Homo sapiens: one gene and its partners. The protein of the gene in region 2 interacts with the protein of the main gene of each other region in a pairwise test. Each region holds a gene or a part of one and is shown on either strand. Other genes may lie near its edges.

The links. The genes of interacting proteins can lie anywhere in the genome.
Region 1: the proteins of ZNF148 (region 2) and GLRX3 interact in binary tests that used the Homo sapiens proteins (3 or more experiments, as listed by UniProt).
Region 3: the proteins of ZNF148 (region 2) and NUTM2F interact in a two-hybrid assay, tested with the Homo sapiens proteins (3 studies listed by BioGRID and IntAct).

Annotation. Positions count from the first base shown.
Region 1 is NC_000010.11:130,160,391-130,167,417, forward strand, and holds part of GLRX3 (glutaredoxin-3), read left to right. Parts: intron 1-405; coding exon 406-607; intron 608-6,116; coding exon 6,117-6,289; intron 6,290-6,528; coding exon 6,529-6,590; intron 6,591-7,027. UniProt on the Homo sapiens protein: Together with BOLA2, acts as a cytosolic iron-sulfur (Fe-S) cluster assembly factor that facilitates [2Fe-2S] cluster insertion into a subset of cytosolic proteins.
Region 2 is NC_000003.12:125,225,325-125,232,351, reverse strand, and holds the end of ZNF148 (zinc finger protein 148), read left to right. Parts: coding exon 1-11; 3' UTR 12-6,683; downstream 6,684-7,027. UniProt on the Homo sapiens protein: Involved in transcriptional regulation. Represses the transcription of a number of genes including gastrin, stromelysin and enolase. Binds to the G-rich box in the enhancer region of these genes.
Region 3 is NC_000009.12:94,325,618-94,333,132, reverse strand, and holds the start of NUTM2F (NUT family member 2F), read left to right. Parts: upstream 1-4,488; 5' UTR 4,489-4,509; coding exon 4,510-4,525; intron 4,526-7,198; coding exon 7,199-7,515.

The sequences.
Region 1 (7,027 bases), on a different chromosome or scaffold from region 2:
CCTGGACATAATGGAATCTCTGGCTGGTTCTGGTTTGATGAATGACTTTTAGGAAGCAGGTGCACACCTGTGCTTCCAGGCACCCATGGGTGTCATCGTAGTTCCCCAAATACCTCATTTATACTTAGTAATAGATTCATTCCAGCCAATGTGGGGGCAGTCTTTTTTGTATTATGTTAGACTGACCTGATTTGACTTTGAGATGTTGCAGTGTTTTCTCAGTGTGTTTCTGAGAAAAGAAAAAAATTATGTATTTCTAAAATTGAGATGCAGTGCAGGCAATTGGCAATGAGGGTTTCTTTTTTTACATCTCCGGTAATACTGTTGTCCCCTTTAAAAATCTGCTATAACAATGTCATTATTATGGAATGCTGCATGTATTCTAAATAACTTTTTAAACTTTAGAATTCTCAGAAAATCGACCGATTAGATGGTGCACATGCCCCAGAGTTGACCAAAAAAGTTCAGCGACATGCATCTAGTGGCTCCTTCCTACCCAGCGCTAATGAACATCTTAAAGAAGATCTCAACCTTCGCTTGAAGAAATTGACTCATGCTGCCCCCTGCATGCTGTTTATGAAAGGAACTCCTCAAGAACCACGCTGTGGTAAGAAGCTGCCTTTAACATAATATAAACAAAATGGGTGCTTTCCCAGAATGGGGTATGGTTGAGATGGGCATCCTGTTTCCAAGGATGCTATACCATACATCTTATACTTGTGTTCACATACTTTTAGAAAATCAAAAAGGTTATAATTCCCAATGACACTATATAAGAATTAGTTTGCATTATGGACTCAGCATGTTGGAACCAAAAGGGGTCTCAGAACTCATCTAATTCAGATTTTTGTTTTATACTGAAGTCCTCAGACTCAAAGATAGAGGTGACTTGCCCAAGGTCACCTGGTAAGCAGAGTTAGGATTAGGTTCCAACTACCATATTGCTGTCTCTTTTGCCTGTTTATCTACTTTTGCTGTTAACAGTTATTTTTTCTTTCTTGGCAGCCTCCTGTTTTTCACCTAGTTCAGATTCAGCAATTAAAAAATTTGCGGAATTTTTCAGTGTTTTTGTGTCCAGCCTGTGTGCTTTTGCCTCCCCTGTGTCATCACTGTCTAATGATTCTCTTCCTGCATTGCTGTCATTTCCAGTTTATAGCTGCTGGTAATGGAAAGATTCCGAATTCTTGGCTTGTAGTCACTCTTATTTTCTGTACACATGGATGCTTATAATTTTGTCCTTAAGTAAGTTTTAGAGTTATTTGACCCCTCTGGTAGTGGGTTTATGTTATTTTCTTTTTACTGTGCCTAGTACAACATTAGTATGCTGCATAATTGAGCATTTAATGCCATTTGATGATGCTGTTGAGACTCTAAGAGTATTTGTATCAACTACACAGGAGGGACTTTATTAAGATAGGGGCAGTAACATTGAGTATGCTCTTGATATGATTACAGCATGTCCAGAGTGACTTTATAAAGATAGCCAAGCTTCTAGTGTGAATTTGATTCTAAATTCTTCCCTGTAGGGTTATTAAATTACATATTAGCTTATGATAATGTCTAGTTTTAAAAATAAAGTTTCATGATGAATTCTTATTTTTTCGAGATGGAATTTCGCTCTTGTTGCCCAGGTTGGAGTGCAATGGCACGATCTCAGTGCGACGGAACCTCTGTCTACTAGGGGTCAAGCGATTCTCCTGTCTCAGCCTCCCGAGTAGCTGGGATTACAGGTGTCCACCACCATGCCCGGCTAATTTTTTTGTATTTTTAGTAGAGATAGGGTTTGTCCATGTTGGTCAGGCTGGTGTCAAACTCCTGACCTCAGGTGATCCGCCTGCCTTGGCCTCCCAAAGTGCTGCTGGGATTATAGGCGTGAGCCACCATGAATTCTGTCTTAAAAGTATCTCTTAGTTCTGCCTAAAAAATTTCCCTGCCAGTATTTATGTGTCAGATAATGCCTGCTATTTGTGTATTGCAAAGCTAACTTAGTCTGTACTAAACTAAAGGTAGCAACAGATAGTCTCTGTTGCGTTTGTTATTTTGTTTTTAACGGGGGTTGCAAATGGTTCACATTCACCTTCTTCCATGAAACATGAAAATTATTTCTTGTACTTTGTGCGGTGGCCACTAAATGGGAACTTACCACTTCAGTTGAATGGATTGTATTCAGCACCTTCATTCAGATCTCAGGTACAGTAGAACTGGCTGTGAAATGTGGGTGAAGCACACCTACAGTGAAATCTCTACAGTATTCTCTCCTTTGGGGTTGAACAGCAGCAGTCTCAGTCTTTTCTGAATGATAAACCTAATGAAAAGGCAGGTGGCAACACTGAAGCTTGGGGAAGGAGTGCTCAGAGGAGAAGGATGTCCTGGGAAGTGTGCTGCACTGGGTGTCATGCCAGGCGAGCCTCAGGCCCACCCCTGCGGCCTTAGCAACTTTGGGGACAAGTCAGGTACCCTCCTTGTGCCTTTAATTCCTTCTAGTGCTGTTGGGAACAAGATTGGCTGTTGGAGCCAATCTTGGAGGGCCTTTTCAGTGTAGATATTGTATGATTATTCAAGTAAATTAGAGAGAAACTTAGACATTTTAATTTTTCTGCTTACCTTTTACTTTATTAAACTGAATTTAAAATATACTGCTAGCATTTTTATATTTATATTAAACTTATTTAAATTATGTTTATTATAATGGAGTGAGATTTGGAAGACTGTACAAATAACAGAATAAAAAAGAAGCTTTGAAATATTTCAGGGCTGGGCGTGGTGGCTCATGCCTGTAATCCCAGCACATTGGGAGGCTGAGGTGGGCGGATCGCTTGAGATCAGGAGTTCGAGACCAGCCTGGCCAACATGGCGAAACCCCGTCTCTACTAAAAATACAAAAATTAGCTGGGCATGGTGGAGTCCTGTAATTCCAGCCACTTGGGAGGCTGAGGCAGGAGAATTGCTTGAACCTGGGAGGCAGAGGTTGCAGTGAGCCGAGATCGAGCCACTGCACTCCAGTATGGGTGACAGAGTGAAACTCTGTCTCAAAACAAAACAAAACACATTTCAGAGCCATCTGAAAACGTAGTATTATAGTTATTTAATTAATAAAAGACAATAAATATTTTGAGATACATATGGTTGAATGGTTACAGTTTCTTCTTTTAAAGTACTTCTATATAATTTTTATAACTACATTTTCAGTGGGTTTTTCTGTTTCCTGATATTTTCTGTTTCATGTCTTTCTGTCACATATAGTAAATAGATCATTTAAGAATGTTGCTGTTCTTTAATAAAATACTTAGGATTAATTGGAAAATATTTTTAAACTGTTTTCTTATGGGAACATAAGTCACCTCGACCCTCTGCTGTTCCTTTCTGAGCCTGGTTAGTGGAGCATTGTTTTTGCTCTTCTTCTGGCATTTTAGAGAAGGGCGTAGGCAAAGCTCCCTTTATAAAAGCACTGGCCATCTCATCTTGTGAACACGCACGTGGCTGCTCTTTCCTTATTTTGCACCAAATTAGCTTTGAAAGTGCTATCTCTGCTAACACCACTGAACTCCCACTGCGGAGTATTTTGATGTTTGTTTTTTGATTAGTTTGTCCCCACCTTGCTTTCTGCTAATCAGAAAAACATGAATGAATAACATTTAAATTTTATATCTAGAAAACCTTGAAAGCCATTTTTAGGGTCTCTCCTGGAGCCCCACTGGACTCAGCCTAACCCCTGCACAGGTCATGTCTCCATCTTCTTATCCTTCATGTGGGCTCTACCTGCAGAATTGTATGGTGTGTTATGAGCCTGACGTGTAGATAGGGTCTCAGTTGAAAAGAATTGGATTGTCCTTACTCTGTGCTCCTCATGAAGATGGGAAAATGCTTGTTTTAGGAAGAGTTTCCAGAAGCACTGAGGTATATGTCATCTTAAACAGAATCTTAAATCCTTGAGCAGGTTAATTATTTGGGAATTCTTATAACTATTTCAGTTAACAAAGCTTTTAGCAAAGCAAAAGGTATTTGAGGCATAGTCAGATATTCCTTCTGCAGTGAGAGTCATCCAGCCGGGCTCTTACTTTTGAATCAGCCACAGAATCAGGTTTCAGAGATGTTTTTTAGGGTTTATTGTTAGGTAGTGATGAGATGCGGTGTTAGGCACCTATTCATGTCATGAGTAGAAATGACTGGGGGTGGAAATGGGGATTCTGTGGCAGTTAAACATTACTTTTCTACATTTAAATATTTTTATTGCATGCATGCATTTTTCTTAAAAAAAGGTGTGTAAATATTTTGTTACTAGAATAAAGCCTTCTTGCCATCTTATCCTTAAGCGTAACATTTCTAGTCTGCCACTTTAACTCTTAAAAATGAAACACTACCAATCAATCTTTCTAGTCTGCATGTAATTGCCTAAAGCTAAAATAAAGCTTCTTCTCAGCCAGTTACAGTAAAAATGAGTTAATATATTGGCAACAGAATAACCATCAGCAATCAGCCGTTAGCTGTTTACTAATGAACTCCCAGATGAATAAAAAAATTTCAGAATCAGTGTTTTACTTCAGGCTGTACATGAACTTAACACTTCAGATGTAGGAAAAGCAACTTATATGCTATACAAATAAATACTAGTGCTTCATCTCAATAAACTGCAGATTTGGAAAATGTTTAGAGCTCACTTGTAGATCCATGTTTTAATAGTAAATATGATTTTGGGTGACATCAGTAAAGCCCATTCTTGCAATTAATCTTATATTGAATTTTATGGTTTGATTTTATTTAAAAACAATTGCTGACACTGCTAAGTCTTATAGAAATTTTGAATCTGAAGAATAGGTTCTTTTCCAGTGAATTACAACTGTGTTTGAGAAGAAGAATGAGGCGTGAAAGAGTAGGGCCCTACATAGTATTGGGAACAATGGAGAAGAATTAGCTTATGGAAAGAAAAATACTTTTTTTTTCAGACTAGGCTAATAGGTTTATAAAAGACTGATATTCACACTCTTATTCTTCAGTTATAATGTCATAATAAGATGATGTCAAAAAAGTACAGAATAAAAATGTGTCACAAAAGTATAATAAAATCATGGAACATAAAATTGTCGCTATAGTGTAGTAAAAAAATTACATTACATACTTTAGGGAATGTAAATAGTTTTAAAAAAGAAACTGTCAAGTTATGACATGAGATGAGAAAGAATACCGTCAATCTATTGATGGTTCATATATAACAACAGAGAAGATAGCTTTAAAATTCAATGTACTGTGTGTATTTTAGACTACAGGAGAACACATGCCTTCTTGATTTCTAATTTATCCTACTTAGAGATAGTGAAGATTGAGAACTACTGAAGTGGGAACTCAGGAAGTAGTAAAATGGCAGTAGAAATGCAACAGCATTGGGTTTTAAGTATAGTCAAGTAGTAGTTAAAAATAACAATTGTAGAATTTTTTCATCTGCCCAGAATTGATTCTCATAGATTCATAACAGAAAGGCTGGGAGGGACTGTCAGAGCATCAGGTCAGTCTCCTGATTAGTAGGAAAGTGCTGAGCGGAGGCCACCCATGGCCTCATCATGTGTCACCTTGGTGGGTGGAGGGAGCAGGTGTCAGATTCAGATTTCTGGTTTTGTTTAAAGACAAGGTCTTGCTTTATCACTCAAACTGGAGGCTGGAGTGCAGTGACAATCTCATAGGTCGCTCCAGCCTCAGACTTCTGGGCTCAAGTGAGCCTGTTGCCTCAGTTTCCCCAGTCTCTGGGATTACAGGTGTGCACCATCACCCCCAGGTCTCTGCTTTTTGGCTAGTGCTATTTCTCCTGTGACAAAAAATGTCCATGATATTGAAGAATAACTTTAATAAATACACACACCACTTTTTTTTTTTTTTTCAGTAGTCACAGTTGTGTCAAAAAGTTAAGTCATATCTGAGTGTGTGATATGGTTCAAGGTCAAATAAGGGGATCCAGGAATTTATTTTCTCTTTGTATATTATTCAGCCATGCTAATTAAATCACCAGCAAAATAAGGCAGGCGTCTATGTCTTTTAGATGATATGTACGCTGAACTAATGTATTATCATGTGTATGTGTTTTGGGAGAGAGAAGTTAAGTGCTTTATTTCTTTTTTTGTGTACAGGTTTCAGCAAGCAGATGGTGGAAATTCTTCACAAACATAATATTCAGTTTAGCAGTTTTGATATCTTCTCAGATGAAGAGGTTCGACAGGGACTCAAAGCCTATTCCAGTTGGCCTACCTATCCTCAGCTCTATGTTTCTGGAGAGCTCATAGGAGGACTTGATATAATTAAGGTTAGAATTGAGAAGTCTGTGCTTTGTAAAGAAATTCCATTTAGAGCATACTTTTTAAAATGTTGTGATAAATCTAAGATACAAATTTCTTATGAATCTATATTTACTAATAAGAACCTGCAATGAATACACAGTATTTCTGATTAGTTGATTGATCAATAATCTGTGTTATGGTATGATCAAGGAGATTTATGTTATAATAATTTTTTTCATAAAACTGGTATGTGTGCTTATTTTAGGAGCTAGAAGCATCTGAAGAACTAGATACAATTTGTCCCAAAGCTCCCAAATTAGAGGAAAGGTAAGTGTTTTAGAAGGTTTCAAATAGCCTATCATTTAATATATTAAAAATATTTTAAAGTCCTCAGGTTTTGCATTGCTCTTTCTGTGTAGAAATCAAGGATTTGGTATGCCAGACGTCATAATTGTTTAGTCACATTAGCCATTCAAACTTTGGCAAATCTAATTTGTATTGGAGAAATTTTAGCACCAACTTAGTGATCATGTGGAGGATCTGCTTTGCTTTTATAGAAATGTCATTGTTTCTGTGGAACAACCAAGTTTTGCTTACCTCTCTGCATTTCAGAGCCAGGGTCCAGTTGTTTTGTCACTGCTCCTTGGCGTAACCTCAGCACACTCGTGTTTTACTGGGTGCAGCCTTGGTGACTGCTGCGGGTGCTGCCCCAACGCCAGAGCACTGAGTGACAAGTGGTGAGTGTGAAAAACTCATCACCTCGC
Region 2 (7,027 bases):
CTTTTGGCTAAAAAAAAAAAAAAAGTGTAAATAATACTGGCACTTTAGAACAGATTAATCAAGAGTGGGGTTACTCTGTGTAAATGGAGTGCTGTACAGATTTAAGAGCAATGCGTAATAACAAGTTAAGCTGATATGAATAGCAAGATAATCCAATAACTGCATTTCGTTTGGTTAGTCAGCATTCTTTGAACTGCCTTACATGTTGTCACCTTTATAGAAGCAATGCATTACTTGTTTTAGATCAGAAACTTGCTATTCCACCCACACCAAGTTAAAAAGGAAAAAAAAAAGACTTTCGCACAATTGTTTCCTAACTGATAACATTGTACATTCTTAGGAGATTAGTAATTGTGTGAAATTTACTCATACTGTTTCTAAGTTTTTCAGCATAGTCATTGCACTTCAGCAGGGAATCTGAGTATACTTTACAGACAGAGTGAACTTAAAAGTTTAATGTCAAGAGATTATGGCTTAAATAAATTAGTGTGTCCTATAGGGGGAAAAAAACCAAGAAACCACCTTTTAAAAAGAATGATATGCCATATACCCTTGATTTTCATTTTGCATTATATTGACGTGTTTTTTTGAAGGAAAAAAAGTAATAAAAATCTGATAGTCTAAGACTCCACTATTTAAAAGCCTAATTACTTTAAAAATATGCATACTTTCAGAACTTTTACCAAAACACACAACTGTTGAAGCAGTCACTTCTCTATGGAAGTATGCATATTGGTGTCAGTTTCTTTGTACAGTTGTACTTAGATATTTTTTATGATTTTTCATGTGCAGGTATCAAGGTTTTGAAGTTTTAGTAAAAGAAATTCTGTAGATTACATTCCCAAGAACATAATGCTTACACAAAATGTATATTCCACGTTTTAAAGCTTAATTGTATTTTACTTTACATATACACTTCAGTTAACATAGAGCACTTAGAATCTATTTGGTATTTTTGATTTCTCAAAGTAAAAAAAAAATTAGATTTTTAGGTTTGATATGGTTGTGTCATAATCATCTCGTAATTGACAATTTTAACTTTTGGCAATAAAAGGAAATTGGGATATCTTTGGAACTGTAAAACCTGGTTTAATCTTTTTCTTTCTAGACTCTTGATAGATTGGATAATTAAACAGTATCCAGAGAAACTAAAGAAATGGGCATTTTAATTGCATATTTTATCTTGAGTTACTTTTTAATGAACACTGCTCATTACAACTTTACAAACCAAAAGTGTTTACTAATTCCAGTAACTACCATTTCTTTTTCAGCTAGATGAGTGATCGGAAAATTTTTGTTGCATTTCAAAATCTAAATAAACTACAGACTTTATCCTTATACCATGAATGTTTTTTTTTAATACTCTGTCTTAAAATAATACAGCATGGTACAATAAATAGTGCTTTTATGTATATATACACACACACACTTTTCTGAAGAATGATGGTTTGAGTTATGCGTTGGGCAGTTTTGATTTTTGGAAGTTATATTAGTTATTGACTCTTTGTTACAACTTTTTCATTTTTACATTTTAAATTTTCTGCCATCGTTGTCACAATGCACATCCTGATATAGCACCAGTGAAAATCTAAAATTAATACCCTTGGAAAATGAAAATATTCTTAATTTCCATTTTGACTCTTATACTGGCCCTATAGCTCTGCAGTCTTTGTTTCAATATAGAATATGTTATCCATTTAAATTATTTTTTCTTTTATTTAATGTTATCCCAAGACTGTTCTCATAAAGAAAGGGAAGAAATAACTATCCACCCTTAACATCCTTCATTTATTTTGAATATATTGGTGTTTTTATGATAAGGAATATAAATTATATTTAATGTGGTTTCCTGTATACTTTGGTTATTAAGTTTTGCTTGAAATAGTAGTTTTCCCGTTTGACAGCTTTCTTTGCTGCCAAAGTTTTCAAGAATTTAAGACTTCTTTGAAGTAAATATTTAAGTTCTGCCATTATTGACTCTTAAGATTGTGTGTGTTGTGTTGTGCATTACATAATTACAAAAAGGCTTCATTCAGGTGATACGTTAAAAATGGAACTGTGCTCACCCTAAATAGGCATTGGTATTTTTCTCTTTTGGTGAGAGTAGGCATTTATTTCTTGAGTTGTTTTGGAGCCTGATCAAAAATTTTGTTCATGGAGAACTTGATGCAATTTTGATACAGTGGAGAGGTTTTTTTCGGTTGTTTTAACATCACCAGCATAGTTTTTAGAATGTGACTCTTGCTGAGCATTTAGGGTGAGCTTGGGAAGGAAGGCCTTTGAAAATGGTAGTTATGCAAGCAGACTTTCAGGTGTTGCATTCCTGTTTTCAACACATTTCTTTAAATCTACATAATGGCAGACTTTTCTACCAGGTTATAAGCAGTTTTTAGATAAGTGATACTCAGCCAGCATAACTTATTGACTTACCATTTACGTATAGTCATCACTCTCTTACTGTGAAATTCCAAATGCCTACCAGAGTTACCTTGTTCTATCATAATATGACAAACATCTCAACAGTTTTGGATTTCCCCACTTTGGTTCAGAAGGTTATTTAATTTCTATCTGGGCATTAATGGAGAAAATAAGTAGCCTTGTGTGCTGCTTCAGATTGAAACATGGAGGATATGAGATATTCTTCTGCAATTCATGTTTCTCATTTCTCAAAGTGAGCACATTGTTCTATAAAAACATGCTGGTACACCCTTAAACTTTTGATCAATCTGAGTGAGGTGTGCTTTTCCTCTTGGGACCTACTCACGTTTGAAGATTGGAAACATCACGTTAGGCGAGGCAGTATCTCTTGAACATCTTCTAAAGGGTTTTTTAAAACCTTATTCTCACATATTTCATTTGTCTTGAATATTTAAGTGGCTCTTAAACGTTTTGGGTCTACATGCAAATGTGGTACTTAACAAGGTAGGAATCCATCTTCTTAGCTCTGGCTGAGGGTGCCAGCCATCGGTCAGGTCATTTTTATCTCAAGAGGCAGAAGGCAGTTATGTCAAGAATTGTGCTCAGGGCAGGATTTCGTTTCCACAGAGGAGAGACACTTGCAGAGTGCCAGCTAGGTTAGATCTTTTGCCGCTTCTTTCATTTGATTAATTTGGGTTTTTAAAGGGCTGTTTAAAAAAAAAAAAAAAAGGCCGGGAAACTTTAAAAGTAGGCATTACTGTAGTACTGCATTTCTTAGAACATTTTAAACTAGAACTCATTTTTTTTTCACAGTATATTTACTTGAAGAAGCACTATAATAATCATTGAGAAGTATTTTGAGTCTGAAATTTAATTTAATTTTCCGTTTCAAATTGCTTTATTTCAGGGAAATAATTTTCCAGTTGTTTTGCTATATTCTGCAAATAAAAACCGTGTTTCCTTTTTTCACTTAAACTTTGGTAGGAAACAAACTAAAGCAGACAAACATTTCTTGTTATGTTTGTTGCTTTCTTTAATCCAATGGATAAAAAAGTAAAACCCTGTAAACATTATTTTATTTTTTTATGCAATACCATGCTGTAAATATGGTTCATCAAATAAGGATGTACCTATGATTGAATCTTTAATTCTGCACAGTTAGAGTTTATATATAAACGTGTCTTGACAATCAAGGACTTTTATGTGAGTCTTCCTTTATGATGTTTATTAATGTTATGCATTCCATTTGTTTTGAAGTGAGTACCAATGTGCTAATTTGTATTGTCTGAAAGTATGTAATGTTTTTACAGCTTGTTTTTAAGAATCTGTAAATATGTACAAACAAATCACAGTACTGCTTTATGTTAGAAGGCATATGATGTTGTACTGTATGTAAGCAATAATACATAGCAGTGCTAACTTTACAAGTAGCATCAGGAAAGTTCTAAAAACATTTCAGAGTTATTAATTATCCTTATTTCATTTAATAATGATTATCTTTAATCAGTTTTTATAAGCAAATTCCATTGTTCCTCCTATTGGAACGTAACACTGTTTACACAGCATAATTGAAGTTGCAGGGGAGACAGGCTAAATCTGACTTCATCTGTACTCACTTTCACTAAGCATTGAATGGCCTTACCACTCTTCTGCAAGATGGAGGAAGACCGCAAAACTTAGTGCCCATCACACTGAAGGAAGGGATGTGGTTTTTTTTCCTGCTTCTGTACTGCTACCTAACTTTGTGATTTGCTTTGGATTTTAATATTTGTTTCTGTTTTAGATTCAAGCCCGTAAGTTTTGAGGTGACTTCAGCTCCATTGTGAAATAGATAGTTCTCTTCATATTTCATAACTACATTTCAATAATTCTAAACTTTCTACATTGATTTTTAGATACTTATTTTTCAAGCTTGGTTTCTCAGCTGATCAGATGAATTTATTCAACTTCAATACAAAGAAAGACAAACCTATTATAGTTTCAAGTGAGTAGATATTATACTGTACAGGACAGCTATTTGAACACACACATCACTGCTTTAGAAATAAAACCGCCAATTTATAAATGTATATGACCTACATTTTATAGGAAAAAATGTTTTTAAATGCTAGTCATTTATATAATGTGCTTTGAAGGATTTGCTAGTCCACTTCTGTCACTTTTTAGTACACTGGTATCTTTTATATGTAATGTATGCTTTTTATTATTGTAGCAAAGCATTTCAGTAGAAAGAATTTTGCAACAATATGGGGGAAATTTTTCATTGTTGGATTTGAATTATACTGGATTTTATCTGTGTAGTCTTACTTGTCTTTATTTTAATGCTGTCTGAAGGGAACTTGGTATCCAAATAAAGCAGGTAACCTCATTTTACTTCAAGGGCATACTGTGTAGTGCTGAATTTAATCTGAAAATCTGATGATTTTGAAAAGAAAAACAAGTTTATAAACATTGTACAGAAGAAATTAAATGTGTGTGATGGAAATCCTGATGGTGGAGCACGTTGAATTTTCTGATATATAGTGTTATTTTCCTGGGATCCCCTATGCCTTCTTTGTATTTCAACTAATAAAGGAAAAACCCTGTCATTAAAACTGGTAAGATAATAGGATATTCTGATTATACAGTATTACTATTCCTATCCCATTTTCTGACCTTTTCTCAATCACTGTAAATTTTTATTTTCTATTTCCTATTGATAATTAAATATGTACATAATATAGACACTGTTGTATAGAACTAAATGAATTGGGTTGCTATGCTTGAGTGGGTAGTGAAATGGAAATATTTGATGAATACTGAGAGTTCCTAAAATGCTAGAGCAAATTTCCGAGGGAAAGGGGGGCATCGTGTGTCTTGGGAAGGTTGCAGCAGGTTGTTTCTTCAACTCCCTAAGAAATCATTGGGAAGGACTCAACTGCAAACTCGGGATCAGATACAAAATGGGTCTTTCCTTCCCCTCTCCCCCAAAAAATAGGAGCACTAAATTTTAAAATCTACTCAGGTGACAGTTGCTTTGCAATGAAACTTATCACATTGAAATTTTCAGTGTTAAATAAAAAGAGATTTGTGATATTTTTAAATATAAACTTTTACATCAGTAGTCAGCAGCCTGACAATTGAAATTTGGTAAGTCGATATATTTTAAAATATTTTGCTCTCCAAATAGAATTGTTTTTAAACAATTGGGAGGTTTTTTGTTTCTTTAAATATGTTTTAATTGTCATTGTAAAAACAAAATCTTGCTTGACCCTATATTATGCCATGAATGAATTGCTGAGCCTTTATAATACAGTGACAGCTTGTTTCATGCATAGTCATGGAACATAGAGATGTTCTTTAAACTGACCTATTGATAAGAGGTTTAATGAGTTTCACGGCTTTCAACACTATTGTCATATAGTTATCTTTGCCATTTGGAGTTTATAAAACCATTTTATGTATTGTGATACTAAAGGAAGTTGTTTTGCTTTACTTTAAATTGAATTATTAGACTAATATTTGCAAATTCTGCATTTTAAATGTGGACACTGGCTGTTTGAAAAATAAAATATAGAATACAGTTTTATGGATAATTTTCGAGCTGAATTTTTCACAATATTCTGAACCAAATAACGAATGGTAAATATGCAAAAATCATGGTGCATAGATATAACCGTAAAGAGAAAAGAATTTCTGTGTGGAATTAACAGTTACACAAATTGGGTAACAATTATCAGGGCCTTTATTATAGCTTTATGTGGAATGTTATTCTAAAATGCAAGAGTCAAATGTTACTGTCATTGAATATTTTAGACTTGAAACGTGTTTATCATAGAGCGAAGAAAATATGTGTTCTTTTCTTTACAGATAAGACTCTGTTAACCCACTGTCAGCATACGTGGGATTTCTTTTCTTTTTTCTTTCATTAGTGGAGATTTGTTTTCATCCATCTACCACCTTGCCAGTACCCTAGCTTGTGACCAGCGGGATGCATTGTAAGAAAGTTGTCTGTGGTTAGGAGTGCAGTCTGGGTCCATGGAACAAATTTAAACTAATTGGCCCTCGCAATGATCAGTCCTAGGACCCTGGCCTTATTATTAGCATGGTGCTTTAACCAATTGTACATAATAATACCACTGATAGTCTACTAATGCATTTCCTAGATCCCAGTTTTTCTTGAATGATTAGGAATGGTGGGGAGAGGGGAGGGGAGATATTCTACATGATACTTCTCCAATCTTCTAAAGATTATAAGAAAAAATAAAAAATTGAAGTCACTTGAATTAATGTGTTGTCATTGAGTCTTACTCGACAATTTATCATGCACAAAGTGATTATGAAGATTTTCCTGATTATATGTTTGGATTGAATTTAAAAATTTTTTTTTTCAGAATGCTGGCTGTTCTGTTTTATTTCTTCTCTGGTGAACCTGATAGGATATAAATTATATTCATATGATGCATAAAGAATGAATGGAGGTGAAAAGTTTTAAGTGAACTAAAGCTAAAATTTGGGTCTCATAATTTTCTTTCTTTTGTCATTTTCAAGTGTAATTAAAAGGAACATTTTACCCAGACATTCACACAGCTGCATATGCATATGTGTAAGAGCTGGGATGTGAAATGTG
Region 3 (7,515 bases), on a different chromosome or scaffold from region 2:
CCAACTTGTGCTACCAAGTGAACAGACTATGAGTAAAGGCCTCTTCTTCCACTTTGCAGCTGCTCATATCATTGACAAACGAGCATATTAGAGCATGCATGCTGGCTGATCATTCTGATTAAGGCAACAAGCTTCACAACTCACTCAATGAGGTCGTCCGTGAGAACTTCACTGATTTTACGAGGACAGGAGCTACTTCTTTGCTGAAATGCATCACGGTTTCAACTGCTGAGGTTTTCCTCAACCTTTTGCATTGTTTGGAATGTGAGCAGCACGGCCGAGACAAACTTTGGGGTTCCCACTGCATTGTTAAACCTCCCCCTTCACTTCAAGGCCAGGCGAGCAAGGGAAAGGAGCGCGGCCTGGGCGTCCCGCAGGGCCCCGCTAAGGACCGCTCCCGCCTTGAGCGCAGCCACAGGCCCTCTCTGGCCACAAGGATGGGGTCGCCCCGCAGACACTGTTGACCAGCGGAAGCATGACCAGGAGGCGATTACCTTCTAATCACAAATAACTTTATTTTTAGGTAACACCACGGAGGACGCCATGAGAGCTAAGGCCGTTGGGTAACCGCCCTTTCCGCTCGCGCTGCGTCGTCTCCCTGCCCCGAACCACCGGCAACCGATGCTGGGAGCGGTTGAGGGCGGCCGGCTGCGCGCTGGAACCCCGCCCGCCTCAAGGCTCCTGCGCAGGCGCGCAGGGCAGGCGTGGAGCCCGCCCTGGGAGGGCCCCGCAGGAGATGGGGAAATGGAGGGACGCTGCACCAGGGCGCTTCCTGGGGCCAGGCGACGCCTTCTCCTTGGAGCCTCCAAGACCGTCCCTCCTAGAAACGAGAGAGTCTGACCGGGCGCGGTGGCTCACGCCTGTAATCCCAGCACTTTTGGAGGCTGAGGCGGGTAGATCACCTGAGGTTGGGGGTTCGAGACCAGCCTGGCCAATATGGTGCAATCCCGTCTCTACCAAAATTACAAAAATTAGCCAGGCGTGGTGGCGCGCACTTGTAGTCCCAGTTACTTGGGAGGCTGAGGCAGAATTGCTTGAACCCAGGAGGCGGAGGCTGCAGTGAGAGGAGATCACACCACTGCACTTCAAGGTGGGAGCAAGACTCCATCTCAAAAAAAAAAAAAAAAAAAGCTAGTACAGAAGCAACTCACTGACTTGAGTTTGTAGTAGCTTCAGAACAAACTTTCATCATCAGATCCTTTCTGCTCATTTGCAGGATTCCTACCGTCTGTCTCCACGTGATGACACTGAAGAGCCTTCACGTCTATGACGGCCTAGGGTCTCAAGTGCAGAGACTGAGAGCTCTGCCAGACACAGCATGGAGCCGCCATTCCTCTACTGTTCAGTGATTGGGTGGAAGAGCATCTGTCCTCTGAACAGGGGATCCAAGCCCTGAGATGATGTTTCTCAGCAGTCAGTGTGGCCCAGGACTTTCTGTGGGCATGCTCAGAGAGCAGGGGCCAGAGGACTTTTAGCCACCACCTTCTATGGCCAGTCTTCACAAATTACCTTTGGCTAATTTGATTGTCTCTCCTCCTGGGGTCTAGGACTTCAAACACATACAGAAGCGATTGCAGAATTGAAACAAGACACTTCCACAATATACTTTTTGTATCAGTGGCTCAGAAAAAGACTCATTCAAATCCTGTATCAAAGCCATGTGTGAGCATCTTGAGAAAGCATTGACTGACTAACTTGACAAGGGAGGAAGCAAACAAGAATTCTGCCCTTCTTCAGTGCCTGAGTGTGATATTTTGCCTCAACATCCCTCTTAGATGAAGTTACTGATTGAAAATCATTTAAGTTTTTGCCCCGTGATAAAAGATCGCGTCCTCAGAAAGATCTCCAAAGCATTTACTGTTTGTTTGGTTTGGTTTTGGTAAGTTTACCATGATTTTGCTTGAATTGCTCTCCGCTGATCTTCTCAGCTAAGATCGAGGTAGAGTTGCACAGCAGAAGAGGGCTGCATGTAAGGAGGCAGCTCTGTCTCGGAGGACAAAAGGCCTGGGAGCATCCAGACAGGCAGTCACTGTGTGGAGGTCACTCCCCTCCCAGTGGCCACTGTGGAGGCATTTCATAGAAATGCTCGCTGGACCATTCAGTTTTAGAGTTGGGACAAAACCGAGAACTCATGAGGATATCGGATAGGAGTTAGGAAATGACTTTTTCACACAACCCAGGCAAGGAGGGGAGAACCCTGGGCTTGAGACTTGCAATCCACTGCCTGCCCCTGCAGTGTGGCCCGTTACGTTTTCTGCAACTCTGCCTTCTTGAGTCCAAATGTCTTTGAAAGGGGCAAATGCTTCTTAAGTGCCAACAGGGTGTGTTTCAGTGAATGTTCACAGTGTGCACTGGTCCGGCTGAAGGCCTCTTCCCTTCCCCAACACCCACCCATCAGTGCAAAAGACTGCTGCCCAGCAGGGAGTGACATCTGTGTCTCAGATTTTCTTGCTGTGCTCTGAGTACTCACTCCTCATCTCCTTTGACCAGTTTCCTAACACTCCCCTTGTTCACAACACAGAACATGAGTGCTCTTTCCTGTCATTTTGACGCTGATAAACAGCAATTCTGTGTGAAAATGAGAATGAAGATTTTTTTAAAGACAGGCTACAATAATTCCCATGCTGAGAACCACATGTGATGACACTTGTGATGAAGATGAGGACAGCAACGAGCTGAGAGACTCCAACCAGGATTCACACATGCAAGGGGATGCATGAGAATGGGGATGGGACATTGGTGGTTAGCATCCTTGCTTGTCTCAGAATGGACGTGGGTTGTGGATTTCTAACTCCTGGAGAAACCAGAGTTCTAGGAATTGTAAGCCACTTTATGTTAGGAAAGAAAAAGACGGTGTTCTGCTCTCCTGTCCCTTAAAACTGTGCGTACTGCCACTAAACCTGGAAGCTGAGAACGGTATAATGGCTACTCCTGACTTCCTTTCATCAAATCAGCCTGCTATTGTTTTCTGCAATGGTTGTGGTGCAGAATCTTTTTGTGGTGCAGCCAAGATTCACACTTGAGTCTCCTTACTGCAAGTTCGCACTCTCACAGTGGAGAGTTAACAATAATTGCCTAATATGTTACACTTTTTTGGGAAGAGTTACCAGATAAAGTGCAAGATCCCAGTGAAATGTGAATAGCACAGATAAAGGACAGATTTTTTTTTTTGTAAAAGTGTACTCTAAATGTCATATGGATCATAATTATAGTAAAAACTAATTCACTGTTTATCTTCAATTCAAATTCCACTTGGTATTCTTTATTCATACTTGCTAAATCTGGCCACTATGTTCTTTCATGTATTTTTAATTTTAAAAAACAGTCCAACATCTCATTCTAGCAATTTACCTACAGAAATAAAGAGAGGAACCACATTACTGGGACAAATACAGTCACTGCAAATATCAGAAGAATACTAGAACATATTAATATATTAATTTTTACCCCCAAAAAACTGAAAATATTTTTAGACAGCAAAAATAGCTTCATTATGCTTTTGATTGCATAATATATCTCTGGAAAGATGAAAAAGAATCAGATAACACCTATTTCCTCCAGGAAAGAAAATGTGGTGGCCAGAGAAAAGAGGTGGGAGGAAGGCTGGTCATTGTCTATTCCACTGTGCACAATTTGAATTTGGAACCATGCAAAAGTATTGCTTAGTTAAGTTAAAATCATGTAAAAGATACAAAATAAACATTTAACACCAGCACAATATGCTGGGAAACAAAATGAAAGGATTTCTGGTCTCGGTGCTGTAGGTCACATAGCCTCTCTTTCCTGGACTGAGTCTTCCTAAGAAAGGGGACGGGAAGTAAGGCTGGCCTACTGGTGTGGACAGATTCCAGCAACATACATGACCTGGGGGCACAAGGACTGCTTCCTAAACAATGATGAGCACACAGCCACCTAATAGCCTGGATCAGCTGAGGCCATTCTGATTTCAAACACTCAGTCCCCTTGCCTTCCTAAGAACCCCTGTGTTTCTCAGACTGAAAACGTGTTCTGAATTTTGTTAAGTAAGTGTGGCCCCTGTTGAAATTCATCAAGAGTGGGAAAGAGCCAAAGTGGGAAGGAGCATGGGTTGATTGGCACAAAAGTAGGTCTGTTGATAAAGAATGGAAGTAAAGGGGACATCAGGTAGAAGCTTTTGCTGTGAGTCAGAAGGACAATTTAAAAGTTGCCTAAAGAGGCGCACACTGTCTGTGTTGCTGCCATCCAGTTGGATGGCAACCAACTGAACCAAGGGAACCTCAGGTTCTTGCCTACTGGCCAGAGCCCTTCACAGAATGTCCCCCACCCCCGCCAAGCCCGGCTGCCCACTGCCCCTCCCCCTCTGCAGAATGTCTGGGGTCCTGTGTTCCAAACCTGTTTATATGCAAATTATCCCTGCTCCACTTGGACTCAGGAGGATCTGCTGAGTCAGGTCACTCTCTGGGTCCTGCCCTTGACTTTTTTCATTGCGGAAGCTGCCAGACAGTGGTGGTCAGTGCCCAGCCTGAGGGGATGGCTTCAAATGGAGGTGAGCCTGTAGGGATGGGGCATTATCCGAGTCTGCCTTGCCTCAACTCCTTGGGAATTCAAATTTGAACTGTCCCTGGGGACAGCTTATAGGGCTGATGTTGAGGGAGGGAGCACTGGATGTCCCCAGGGACATCACACCTGGGGATGGCCATGGCACCCTGAGTCTGTGGTTAGGGAGGAGGGCTCCTTAGAGGCGGACCAAGATGCCTGGGGGAATACACCGTGTAGTGGAAAGGATGGAGAGGATGGGTTGATCCTTTCTAGAGGGGGACAGGTCACGTCATTGTGTTTGTAGGGAGTGGTGGGATCGTGTTGTGCTGGTGGCCCAGGGAGAATGACGGGCAAGCCTGAGCCCTGTGCCGTGTCTTCAGGCACCTGGAAGGTGCCCTTCCATAGTGTTTAGAGGGATTTGGACTGGAGTTTTCTAGTTCTTAGAGAGGAGTGGGGAGAAGTGGTCTCAGCCAGAAAACTGTTGGGTGGGTTGGCTGTGACAGAGCATGTAGTGACAGCCTCTGGGTGGGCAAGGCTGGGGGCCACTGCAACTGCCACAGCCCAGAGCCTCTCAGCTTCCTCCCCAGAGATGGCTTCTCCGTCAGTTCAGGTAGCTGTTGGCTTTGATTTAACAGGGGTGGGGGCAGAATGGGGAAGTTCAGGCAACACAGGGCCTGGGTTTCCTGAGTTGTTCTGAATTGTTTGCCCTTTGGTGGAAGCTCAGGTCTTCAGACCCACTTCCTCTCGTCAGCTAGCTCATGGCCCGTCCTCTGTACTTTGTGTTACTGTGGAGGTGAAGAATTTGCTCCTGTTCCATTTATACTACCTCATGAACGGGCGACAGGTGTGGATTCTTGCTGGTTCTCAGTGGAAGGCTCTGAAAAGGCTGGTTTCCTTTTCAGTAGAGGAAGGAGAGTAGCGCACAAATAGGAAGACAGTCCTATTATTATTATTATTCAAACTAGGATGTGTGTCCTGACTGATGAGGTGCATGTGCTGTATCCCTTATTCCCCTTGGCTAGAGACTGCATGAGGTCCTAGTGAACAGGGATGAGTTCCAGACAACTCTGCCTCACCTGGCCTGTGGCCCAAGAACCCCTGGTTCTTCGTTGGTCCCTATGTTCAGTTACTGGGAGCTCAAAGGAGAAGGACCAGAGATGGGCTCCCTGTCCCACTATTTAGTGTAACATGACTAGCAGCTGTGAAAATCCCTGGCCGGGCGCGGTGGCTCACGCCTGTAATCCCAGCACTTTGGGAGACCAAGGCATGTGGATCACGAGGTCAGGAGTTCAAGACCAGCCTGACCAATATGGTGAAACCCCGTCTCTACTAAAAATACAAAAATTGGCTGGGCATGGTGGCGGGCGCCTGTAATCCCAGCTACTCAGGAGGCTGAGGCAGGAGAAGTGCTTGAACCTGGGAGGCAGAGGTTGCAGTGAGCTGAGATCGCACCACTGCACTCCAGCCTGGGTGACAGAGCGAGACTCCGTCTCAAAAAAAAAAAAAAAGAAAAAAAAGAAAATCCCTAGACACCTCCCCTGATAGCCCTGCTGCTCACCATTTGCTGGCTGTGTTCTAGTCATGTGCAGCTGTTGCTGGCTACACAATGACAATATCTCAGGGGACTCCACCACTGCTTCTCAGATCTGCTCCCTGGGAACTGAGCTTCCTGAGTGGCAGCTGGGACCACTGAGCACTGAGGAATGGGTGGCCTGAATCTGACCCCTATTTAACACTTGTGTGGGTGGTGCCAGGACAATCACTTGCATGCTGGGCGTGATGTGTTATGGGTTATCTTCAGGGTTCCTAGGGCACTGGCTTGGGTGAGTTTCCATCCAGTGGTTTTCTTTTTTTTTTTTTTTTTTTTTTTTGAGACGGAGTCTCGCTCTGTCACCCGGGCTGGAATGAAGTGGCACGATCTCGGCTCACTGCAGCCTCTGCCTCCTCGGTTCAAGCAATTCTCCTGTCTCAGCCTCCTGAGTAGCTGGGATTACAGGCACGCACCATCAGCTAATTTTTGTATTTTAGTAGAGACGGGGTTTCACCACGTTGGCCAGACTGGTCTTCAACTCCTGACCTCAGGTGATCCACCCGCCTGGGCCTCCCAAAGCGCTGGGATGACAGGCATGAACCAGCACGCCCGGCCTATCCAGTGGTTTTCTTTTGTTGTGTTGAGCTAGGAAAGAAAGGGGTTTACAAGAGCTTCAGGGAAAGGAAGACTGAAGAGGAGATGGGGCCATAATATTCGGAAACTTCTGGTTTCCTGTCGGCCTTCTGAATGCCGAGCACTGCCCTGGGGTAGGCCCCTCACCTGCTGCTGAGCACACTGAGAGCCACCAAGCCACCGAGAGACTCATCCCTGACCCATGGCTTGGGAGATGCCTGTGAGGCTGGTGCAGTCTGCCAGGGACACCCGAGGGAGACCCTCAGAGACAGCAAAGGCTTGGCTGTTTCTTCTTGGCAGACAAGGGTCAGGGAGTCTTGGTGACTGGCGCCAGGCTCTCTAGTGGAGCGACTCTGCCGTGGAGGAACAGAGCATCTGATGCACACTCAGGGACACTTGCAAGCTGCAGAGTTTCCCTGTCACATGCCCTCAGCTGTTGGGACTCCCCTGATTCCCCAGTGACTAGTGTGGACCTGGAGACGCCAGCTCATTCACCTCTTTCCTTTGTCTCCACAGCATACCCAGTGCTGGGACCCGGCGTGACCGTGAACCCTGGCACCTCCCTGTCTGTGTTCACGGCTCTGCCCTTTGCCACACCCGCTCCCGGCCCAGCACACAGGCCGCCCCTCGTGACTGCAGTGGTTCCTCCAGCCGGCCCTCTGGTGCTCTCTGCCTTCCCCAGCACCCCTCTAGTGGCAGGACAGGATGGCCGCGGCCCGAGTGGGGCCGGGGCTTCCAACGTCTTTGTCCAGATGAGGACAGAAGTGGGGCCTGTGAAGCCCCCTCAGGCACAGACCTTGATCCTAACTCAGGCCCCCCTCGTCTGGCAGGCT